Regions from separate parts of the Homo sapiens genome. Here region 1 is linked to region 2. The links come from fine-mapping of genetic effects on gene expression. Tissue or cell type: iPS cells. Region 2 holds a variant in brackets; the other region holds the start of a gene. All regions are shown on one strand. Distances are between the middles of the regions.

Region 1 (5,381 bases), 51 kb after region 2:
TAAAATAAGACTATTTCAGGCTCAGAAAATAGCCTGTACCAAGGCACTGTACAAAGGTATACCTTTTATAAAAGACTGGAGGAAGACAATTGTAGCTAGGGCACAAAAGGTGAGAATTGCAAAGATAACATGAAACTGTGTAGTAACAAAGTGTGAAAAAACTTTGGATATCATCAAAGAATGACTGTGCTTCCTTAAAAGATGAGTTCATTTGAGTTGGCAGTCTAATTTTCATTTGAGAAATATTATTAATAAATCATTCCAGAAAACAAAAAAAAATGCATAATTGATGTTCAGATAACATAGATCCTATGAACTGTTAAGGCCCGGAAGTGGAAAATGACCATCACCCAAGAATTAGATGGTATTTCTACTTTTTAATTTTATTACTAATGTAATTATTTTTATGGGTAACTCCAGAAGGTCTTCCAAGGCCCTTTTAAACCCCCGCAGAGCAAAGGCAGAAACAAAAGCTCTATTTCATAATCAAGAATTTTCCTGTAAAAAGTCTTTTGAATCAAATGCAAGTTCTACAAAACATAATCCACAAGCAAGCCCAAGATGGTTTAGTCAACTGACCTCCTGAATCACCTGGGAGCCCAAACCCTGAACAGAGGTAGAGAAACAGAAGATTAAGACGCTCGTAGCTATCTTAATAACTTGTGCAGAGCTAAACAAGAAGTTTTTATACATAGCTTTCTTTAAGGCAAACTAAAAGCAACATGACACAGAATATCTAAGGAATAGGAAAAATGCTATTTATATTTAGTTAGCAAATTCTGAACTAAAATTGGTAAAGAGTAAACCTGATATCCTCTCACAGAAAAGAAAACACACACACACACACACACACACACACAAACAAGATTTAAAGGGGCTGGGTTTAAATGTTGGTAATGCTGGTCTTGAGCAAGTCACATAACATTTTAGTTACAGTTCCTTTTTCTGCCAAACTGAGATAATAATGCCTACTTAATTGAATTGTGTCAGTTTTAAATAAGTAAACACACATAACGTTCTGAGCAAAATACCTAACACATAGAAATCTCTCAGTAATTGTTATTAATACGAGGTGTCAGACTGAATTTCTCAGTGCAAGGTACAAATAAGGCACTTCTTATAAATATTGACTAAAAATCTCCAACAGAAATTACTGTGTGTCCATACTAATTTCTACCCTCAAAAATAAAAACAAATATTCTATTTTTCAGTTGTATTATTCAAAGCAAACCAGCACAGCATTTAACTTGGAAGTTGTTAAGAGCACCACCTGTCTGATTTTCTTACAGCTGTCAGAAGCAAATTTTAGATCCACCTCCAAAAGTTTTACCTCAACTAGAACCAGACTGTGTCTGTATTCAAAGTAATTTAGTTTTGAAGGTTTCCTTCATTCTAAGAAATACGTACATATATATATGAAGTATATATGAAATATAAATATATATAACTAGCAACCATCAAATAGAAGATATGTATTATAGTATGTAGCTTTCAGTAAAGCATTGAAACAGAAAATATTTATTGTAACATAAAGATAGAATTTACCATTTAGAGGAAAATGAAGAATGAATTTACAAAAAGAACCAGAATTCTAACACTTAATTGCTTTATTTTAAAAATCATACTGATTCACAGTAAGTTTGTGGAATTCCAGTCTTTATCTCTGAATTTCCATTAATGGTCAAATAAATACAAATTTTATGGGAACACTTATGTCTTAAATTGTATATAAATCATATATATGTATGTGTGTTTTACATACCCTAGTAGGAAAGGAAAAACAAATTTAAGGTCTCCATTTAAAAATATCATAAAGCAGAAATGCTTCAAATTACTTTTTAAGTTTAAGTAAGCATTAGTGTAATATTTTAAGTAAGCATTAGTGTAATATTTTAAGTTCATCATGGTCTCCATCCTTGAAAACTTTGTAATTTTTGCTGGATAAGATATCGGCCATCATGTTACATGACCATAGCTATTTATAGAGGTGTGAGTAACAACTGTTAACTAGTGGGGCCTTTGGTATAGCAGAGAACAGTTTCCACATGCAAAATTTAAGAGAAATCTCTTTTTGCTCCCCCAATATACAGATCTGGCAGCCTCTCAGCTCCTAAATCCACTTCTCAGATCCTGTATAGAATCATTGACCAAGGCAATTACCTTAAAGCAACATTTTAAATGGACACATCGACAGTTAATGTGGCTGTCGATTTGCATATTTTTTTTCCTTACTTGATACTATCGGAAAATGGTAGCAATACCTTCAGCAGTGATCTCAGTCATGGTGGTCGTCAAAAGTAAAAGTCAGTTGAAAAGTTCCCGTCAAGTTGCACTTTGCAGAGTATTTGGGGATTTGAGAACTCTGGTGGAGGGTTCTGTGTCAAAACCTGGGGGCTCTTCGTTTTCCTGGCTGTTTCTGCTGCTTCTTTGTTGTCCTGTTGAACTTTGCCTCTCCTCTGCAGAGTTCTCCCCCTGGAAACAACCTAAGCCCTTTCCAAGCAGCACTTGTGGCTCAGCTAGAAGTATCAGCTTCAAACAAAAATAGCCTCATCTCCCTAGGACTCTTCAGCACTTTTTTTTTTCTTTTTTGGCACTCTAGAGGAACACACACACAGACACACCAGCTCTTCAGCCCCAAAGAGAGAAAGGCAAAAAACAAACAAACAAACAAAAAAAACCAAATGAACTACAAAGTACCATCTAAGCCCCCGCAGTTTCTCTAAGATAATTACAGATCCTGGGGTCTATGTCAGAAAACATGAAATAAAGAGTTGAAAGTAATCTTATCCGTGAGAGCTCAGATTTATTCTTAGTGCTCTTAATGCTCAGAACATTCTTCTTTCCCTTATTTGGTTTGGGGAGGGTCCCAAATGTCTATCACAGGCAAAAGGGAGGGTAGTCTTGAGTAATTTTCTAGAAGTTATGTTCCTGTTGATACAAATCCACTTAGCAAGTGCAGTTATTTATATAGGGCTACACTTAAAATTGCAACTATTAAATCTTGAAGCTTTCTTTTAAAGTAGTCATATTGTAGAAGATTAATATTTTCTGAACACTGGCCAATAAGAATTATGTAATGTGAATTTATAGTGTGATACTTGAAAAACATTGGATTGATGAATTACTATCTTTTTAATTCTCTCTACTACCTTACTAAGAACTAAATACCTGCATTTATCCATGCAGTAAAAAGGAAGGGAAGGTGACATAAAGTTTAGTAGTCCACAGCCAATATTTAAGTAAAGTATTTCCTTATCTCAACTTAAAAAAAAAAGGATTATAGCAGCCACTAACAATTAACCAAATTGGCTGATTAGCATTTCACCTTCCCACTCCTAGACAGGTGTTAATGAGCAAAAAAATATTCAATAGTTGGTAGTTGGAAGCAAAAGGAGAATCGAAGGGCATTGATAATCATAAACTCTAGCCAATCTGTGAATAATCAAGGGTTGACTACACTTTTATTTTATTCTCATATTCAACCTAATAAATGCTTGTAGTTTAATCTTTTAGCTTGAACTTGATACTTTTCGTTTTCAGACCTCCCGAATTCCTATGGTACTTCATAGATCATGAAGCAAAGCCATGTTTGTTATTTTTAAAATTCAGGCTCAGAAGAGTGCTGCAACAGCTATTTCCATAGGCAATGACCTCCTCCCTGTTAGTGGTTCTGTCTTAATCTACTGCCCCCATTCCTGACACAATAGAAAGTTGCTCATTTACCAGCTGAATACATAAATTAGTAACAAATCTTAATTTACAAGGAGGAAATGATTACATGATTACATTCATGATTTTATTCAATTCCTATATCTAGGACTGGGCCTAGAGCCTTTTAACTACAAGTTTGCTATCTTCCCCAAGAAATGAGGCCTTGTTGCAGATACTATGACTTAAGGTAAAGGGGGTCACTGCAAATTAGGCCCACTAGCGGGATGAAAAGATACAAAATCCTCAAGAGCAGCTTCCCAGAGCTCTGGGTTGGTCTAAGGAGGTATCCTAAGAGAAAAGCCCTCCTTACATTGCCCCCCACAAAGAATCTCCAGTCAATAGTGCCACAGCAGTTCCAATTGTTTTGAAAAACGTAGCACTTCATATCTCCATTCATCAGTTACTTTCATAATCTTTCATTGTAGTTAACTGAAGGAATGACATCTTATGTAACTCATTAAGAATTTTCATGGGTCAGATCCTAAATAAAATTAGGCTCTGGAACAGGAAAAAACTCAACTTTTCAAACTAGTTTTACTCAATAAAAAGTTAAAATAAGACTCTAGAAAAGAAATACTAAATTCCTAGTATTGATGTTAGTCTTAAGTTCCCAATCACTATTTTCATGTTAAACATACTGGAAGGAAAAATAAAAGAAAACATATTCTAGACAATAAACATGTTTTGAAGATAATAGCTTTTTCAAACCTTTCTGTGAGATGAGTTGATGAATGTCATTAGGCAGTGAGAAATTGGCATGGTTCTCATTTTGAAAAGTTATTAGGACTCTTTCAATTTATCTGAAACTCCATTCATGAGGTATGTCTTTGAATTCCAAATGGAACCCTGCCAAGCTTTCTGAAACCAAGCAACTGACATTCTTACAAGTGTGTACACCTACTCTTCAGGGAACTCAAAGAATAAAACATTACAAACGATTCATTTGCCCTTCTTTATTTTTAAAGGGTCTTCATTTTTAAAGAGATGTTACCAGTTCATTGAGCTCTTTCAAAAGGACCCAAAAGTGATATTTCTCTCTTCTCAGCAATAGCTCCTGGAATAACTCTCACATCCCACTTCTGCACAATCAGCACAGGTAGACTTGTCATAGTTTTGCATACAGGGATATTTATAAAATTAGGACATTAATAACTGAGCTAGTCTATATAAGTAAATGATAAACTGTGAAAATTTGTTCTCCTATTAATGTCGCATTTAGGTCAAGGGGCATCTCCAACCTGATTATACTGATCATTACCCCTTGTAATATTCACTAGTTATTCTAAATACTCAAGTTAGTAGATAAAAATATTCTCCCTTAGAGAAATTTTTAAACCTTGCTCCTGTGTCTGCTATTATCATAAACACTCAATAAGACATGTATTCTATTTAGCTATGAGCAAAATACTGTCATCCACACCAAGTTTCAAAATGGCAAAATATTTGGGAGGCAATCAGAGAAGTTTTGTTGATTTGTTTCCACCATAATAAAATAAAATTAATTTTTTAAAAAAAGTCAAACCATACTGCATTACCTCTTTCAGTGCTGATTTGTTTTCTCTATGATGTGCAAAAAGAGACATAGTTGGGTGTAGATTGGTATTTACCATTACTCACTTATTTTCTCAGAGACTGGGGATATTTGAGAGAAAGTAAATTTTAGAGTTTAT
Region 2 (5,381 bases):
GAGATATCAGCTGTGATGGCTTGGAGAAACTGTAAACCGGCAGTGTAAACAATAGCAGGGCATGTATGAGTAGTTGAGAACGGTGAATAGGAGTATGACTAGACAGAAGATAGTAGGGATGACAAGTTTTTGGGGGGCACAGTCTAAGTTCTGGTGTCTGGAATGAGACTGGGGCCTAATAAAAAGGAACGTCTATACAGGAGCTCAAATGGGCTGTACCTTGTAGTATTCTGAGGACAGGTCTGACTTCTGAGAAGGGAAAGTCATAAAAGTATTATCCAGTCCTTTTTAAGTTGGTGGCTGAGCTTGGTGAGGTGTGTTTTTAAAAGACCTTTAGTCTGTTCTACTTTTCCTGAAGATGGAGGACCGTAAGGGATATAAAGGTTTCACTGAATACTAGGAGCCTGAAAAACTGCTTGGCTGATTTGACTAATAAAAGCTTGTCTGTTATCAGACTGTATTGAGGTAGGAAGGCTAAACTGAGGAATTATGTCTGACAGAAGGGAAAAAATGACTGTGGTGGCCTTCTCAGACCCTGTAGGAAAGGACTCTACCTATCCAGTGAAAGTGTCTACCTAGACTAACAGGTATTTTAGTTATCTGACTCCGGGCATGTTGAGTAAAGCTAATTTGCCAGTCCTGGGTGGGGCCAAATCCTCAAGCTTGATGTGTAGGGAAGGGAGGGGGCCTGAATAATCCCTGAGGAGTGGTAGAATAGTAGATGGAACACTGAGAAGTTATTTCCTTGAGGATAGATTTCCACGATGGAAAGGAAATGAGAGGTTCAAAGAGGCGGGATAGTGGCTTGTACTATAGCATAGCCTGCCTTTGCTGGTGTGTGGCGATTAGGCCTAGTGGAACTGCCATCAATAAATCAAGCGTGATCAGGGTGAGGAACAGGAAAGAAGGAAATATGGGGAAATGGGGTGAATGTCAGGAGGATCAGACAGATACAGTCATGGAGGTCGGGTGTGGTATCAGGAATAATGTGGGAGGCTGGATTGAAGTCCGGGCCAGGAACAATGGTAATTGTGGGACTTAACAAAGAGTGAGTACAGCTGAAGGAGCCGGGGAGCAGAAAGTATATGCGTCAGATATGAGGAAGAAAATAGATTTTGGAAGTTATGAGAAATGTAGAGAGTAAGTTGAGCATAGTTTGTGATTTTGACGGCCTCTAAAAGTATTAGGGTGGCAGCAGCCGCTGCACGGAGACATGATGCCTAGGCTAAAACAGTAAGGTCAAGTTGTTTGGACAGAAAGGCTACAGGGTGCGGTCCTGGCTCTTGTGTAAGAATTCTGACCGCACTAACCATGCCTAGGAAGGAAAGGAGTTGTTGTTTTGTAAGGGATTGAGGTTTGGGAGATTAATCGGACACGATCAGCAGGGAACGCACGTGTGTTTTTATGAGATTATGCCGAGATAGGTAACAGATGAGGATGAAATTTGGGCTTGACTGAAGTAATGGGGGCTGTCTGTGAAGCCTTGCGGCAGTACAGCCTAGGTAATTTGCTGAGCCTAGTGGGTGTCAGGGTCAGTCCAAGTGAAAGCCAAGAGAGGCTGGGATGAAGGGTGGAAAGGAATAGTAAAGAAAGCATGTTTGAGATCCAGAACAGAATAATGGATTGTGGAGGGAGGTATTGAGGATAGGAGAGTATATGGATTTGGAACCACGGGGTGGATAGGCAAAACAATTTGGTTGATAAGGCGCAGATCCTGAACTAACTTGTAAGGCTTGTCTGGTTTTAGGACAGGTAAAATGGGGGAATTGTAAGGAGAGTTTATAGGCTTTAAATGGCCATGCTGTAGCAGGCAAGTGATAACAGGCTTTAATCCTTTCAAAGCATGCTGTGGGATGGGATATTGGCATTGATTGGAGTAAGGGTGATTAGGTTTTAATGAGATGGTAAGGGGTGCATGATCGGTTGCCAAGGAGGGAGTAGAGGTATCTTATACTTGTGGGTTAAGGTGGGGGAATACAAGAGGAGCACGCAAAGGAGGCTTTGGATTGGGAAGAAGGGCAGCAATGAGATGTAGCTGTAATCCAGGAATAGTCAGGGAAGCAGATAATTTAGTTAAAGTGTCTCGGCCTAATAGGGAACTGGGCAGGTGGGGATAATTAAAAGGAGTGCTTAAAAGAGTATTGTCTAATTTGGCACCAGAGTTGGGGA[C/G]TTTTAAGAGGTTTAGAAGCCTGGCCATCAATACCCACAACAGTTATGGAGGCAAGGGAAACAGGCCCTTGAAAAGAAGGTAATGTGGAGTGAGTAGCCTTGGTATTGATTAAGATGGGGACAGACTTATCCTTCACTGTTAGAGTTACCCGAAGCTCGGCATCCATGATGGTCTAGGGGGCTTCCGAGGCGATTGGGCAGCGTCAGTCTTCAGCCGCTAAGCCAAGAAGATCTGGGAAGGAGTCTGAGAGCCTTGGGCCAGAGTTCCAGGGGCTCTGGGAGTGGCTGCCGGGTGAGTTGGACAGTCCGATTTCCAGTGGGGTTCCGTACAGATGGGACGTGGCTTAGGAGGAATCCTGGGCTGCAGGCATTCCTTGGCCTGGTGGCCAGATTTCTGGCACTTGTAGCAAGCTCCTGGGGGAGGAGGTTCTGGAGGAACGCCTGCCCGCTGTGGTTCAGGCATTTGGAAGTTCTTGTGTGCTGGAGATGTGGCTGGGGTTTGTCTCACAGTGGAGGCAAGGAATTGCAACTTTTTTCTATTATTGTACACCTTGAAGGCGAGGTTGATTAAATCCTGTTGTGGGGTTTGAGGGCCAGAATTTAATTTTTGGAGTTTTATTTAATGTCGGGAGCAGATTGGGTAATAAAATGTATTTTGAGAATAAGACGGCCTTTTGACCTTTTAGGGTCTAGGGCTGTAAAGTGTCTCAGGGTTGCTGCCAAACGAGTCATGAACTGGGCTGGGTTTTTCATATTTGATGAAAGAGTCTAAATGCTCACTGATTTGGGAGAGGTCTGATAAAGAAAAAGGAGCATTAACCTTGACTATGCCTTTAGCTTCAGCCACCTTTTTAAGAGTAAATTGCTGGGCAGGTGAGGGCTAGTCACGGAATGAAACTGTAAGCCGGACCGGGTGTGAGGAGGGGAGATGATAAAAGGATTATAGGGTGGAGGACCGGAGGCTGAGGAAGAATTGGGACCTAGCTCGGCCTGGCGAGGAGGGGAGAGGTCAGATGTGTCTGTAGAAAAGGAAGAGTAGAAAGACTCAGTGATGCTTGGGGTTGGGACTGAGGGGACAGGTGGGAGGGAAAGGAGGAAGATTTGGGATGAGTTGCATTGGGAACAGAGACTATAGAGGGACTGATGTGTAAAAGAATGCCTGGATGTCAGGCACCTCAGACCATTTGCCCATTTTACAACAAGAATTATTTAGATCTTGAAGGATGGAAAAATTGAAAGTGCCGTTTTCTGGCTATTTGGAACTACTGTCGAGTTTGTATTGGGGTCAAGCGGCATTGCAGAAGAAAATAAGACACTTAGATTTTAGGTTAGATGAGAGTTGAAGAGGTTTTAAGTTCTTAAGAACACAGACTAAGGGAGAAGAAGGAGGAATGGAGGGTGGAAGGTTGCCCATAGTGAAGGAGACAAACCCAGAGAAAAGAGAGAGTAGAGACATGGAGGGAAGGGGTTTGGGGGTTCTTACCCTCCAGAAAAGCGGGAAAGGGGTCGGGGCACAGAGATACAAGGTCAGGGCATGGAAATAAGGGATTGGGGTGCAGAGATATAAGAGGTTAGGGCACAGAAATAATGGATTGGGGTACAGCGATATAAGAGGTTGGGGCACGGAAATAAGGGATGGGGGCACAGAGATATGAGGTTGGGGTACTTGCCCCTCCTCTAGAAAAGCGGGACTTGCTGCTCAGGGTGAAGGAAAAGGGGTTGGGGGTTTCTTGCCCCCCAGAAAGGTGGAAAAGAGGTAGAGACACAGAGAGAAGGGGTTGGGGTACTTGCCCCTTCCCCAGAAAAGCGGGACTTGCCACTAAGGATGAAGGACCAAGGCAGGCGTCCCTGCGTGGTCTGACACCTCTGAAACCTGGACGAATAATCAGAGAGGTGTCCCTCCAATGATTAAACACCAAGGGAAGGCTGCCTTCCCTAGTCCATGACTGGCGCCAGAGTTTTGGGTCCACGGATAAAACGTGTCTCCTTTGTCTCTACCAGAAAATGAAAGGAATTGAAATTAAGAGAAGGAAGAGATTGAAGAGTGGAAAGGAGAAAGTGGTTGAGGGACAGTGAGAGAGGTTGGAGAAGAGAGTAAGAAGAGTCTGCTTACCCGATTTAAAATTGGTGAGATGTTCCTTGGGCTGGTCGGTCTGAGGACCTGAGGTCGTAAGTGGATCTTTCTCACGGAGCAAAGAACAGGAGGACAGGGGATTGATCTCCCAAGGGAGGTCCCCTGATCTGAGTCGCGGCACCAAATTTCATGTGCGTCCGTGTGAAGAGACCACCAACAGGCTTTGTGTGAGCAATAAAGCTGTTTATTTCACCTGGGTGCAGGTGGGCTGAGTCCAAAAAGAGAGTCAGTGAAGGGAGATAGGGGTGGAGCTGTTTTATAGGATTTGGGTAGGTAAAGCAAAAGGGGGGGTTGTTCTCTGGCAGGCAGGAGTGGGGGTCACAAGGTACTCAGTGGGGGAGCTTTTGAGCCAGGATGAGCCAGGAGAAGGAATTTCACAAGACAATGTCATCAGTTAAGGCAGGAACAGGCCATTTTCACTTCTTTTGTGGTGGAATGTTATCAGTTAAGGCAGGAACTGTCGATCTGGATGTGTACGTGCAGGTCACAGGGGATATGATGGCTTAGCTTGGGCTCAGAGGCCTGACAATGGAGATCAAGTTTCTTATTATGTAAGTGAAGCCTTCAGGTAGCAGGCTTCAGAGAGAATAGATGGCAAATGTCTCTTATCAGACCCCAAAAGGTGCTAGACTCTCAGTTACTCTCTCCTGCATCAGGACAAGATCTGGAAAGGGAGGGAAATTCTCTACAGAATGTAGATTTTCCGCAAGAGACAGCCTAATAAGGCCATTTCAAAATATGTCAAATATATTTTGGGGTACAATATTTTTATTTCTTGTAGGGTCTGCTATCTGTCACATGATGCTATACTAGTCAAGTTGGAATCTGGTATCTTATTGCTACAAAGAGTCTGTTTCGCAACTCTTAAAAATCTCTGTTTTAATGTTAATGCTGGCAAGTTGCACCTGAATTCCAAAGGGAAGGAGATATAAGGAGACATGTCTGACACCTCCTTCCCATCATGGCCTGAACTAGTTTTTCAGGTTTACTTTGGAGTTCCCTGGGCAGAGAGGAAGGAGCCATTCAGTAAGTTGGGGATTTAGAGTTTTATTTTTACTTTACAAAATGAATAAAAATC

Which allele goes with the higher level. Positions count from the first base shown, and alleles are read on the strand shown. Sizes are in standard deviations (SD) of each study's normalised expression.
In carriers of allele G in region 2, the expression in iPS cells of the gene that starts at base 2,458 in region 1 tends to be higher than with C alone (large effect, 0.83 SD a copy in PhLiPS).

What was found. PIP is the estimated chance that this variant, and not a neighbour inherited with it, causes the effect.
Region 1: TRDN starts here. The variant in region 2 is fine-mapped to the expression of TRDN in iPS cells (PhLiPS, PIP 0.95).

The regions. Positions count from the first base shown.
Region 1 is chr6:123,634,493-123,639,873 of GRCh38, forward strand. It overlaps TRDN (triadin), which reads right to left and starts at 2,458. Exons shown (of 41, transcript NM_006073.4): 1 at 2,262-2,458. The coding sequence starts at 2,283. All of the region lies in intron 1 of LOC105377981 (a long non-coding RNA gene), which reads left to right.
Region 2 is chr6:123,583,177-123,588,557 of GRCh38, forward strand. All of the region lies in intron 1 of TRDN (triadin), which reads right to left. Among named protein-coding and RNA genes, the nearest start is that of TRDN, 51 kb to the right of the region's middle. The variant C/G (reference allele first, on the strand shown) is at 2,170.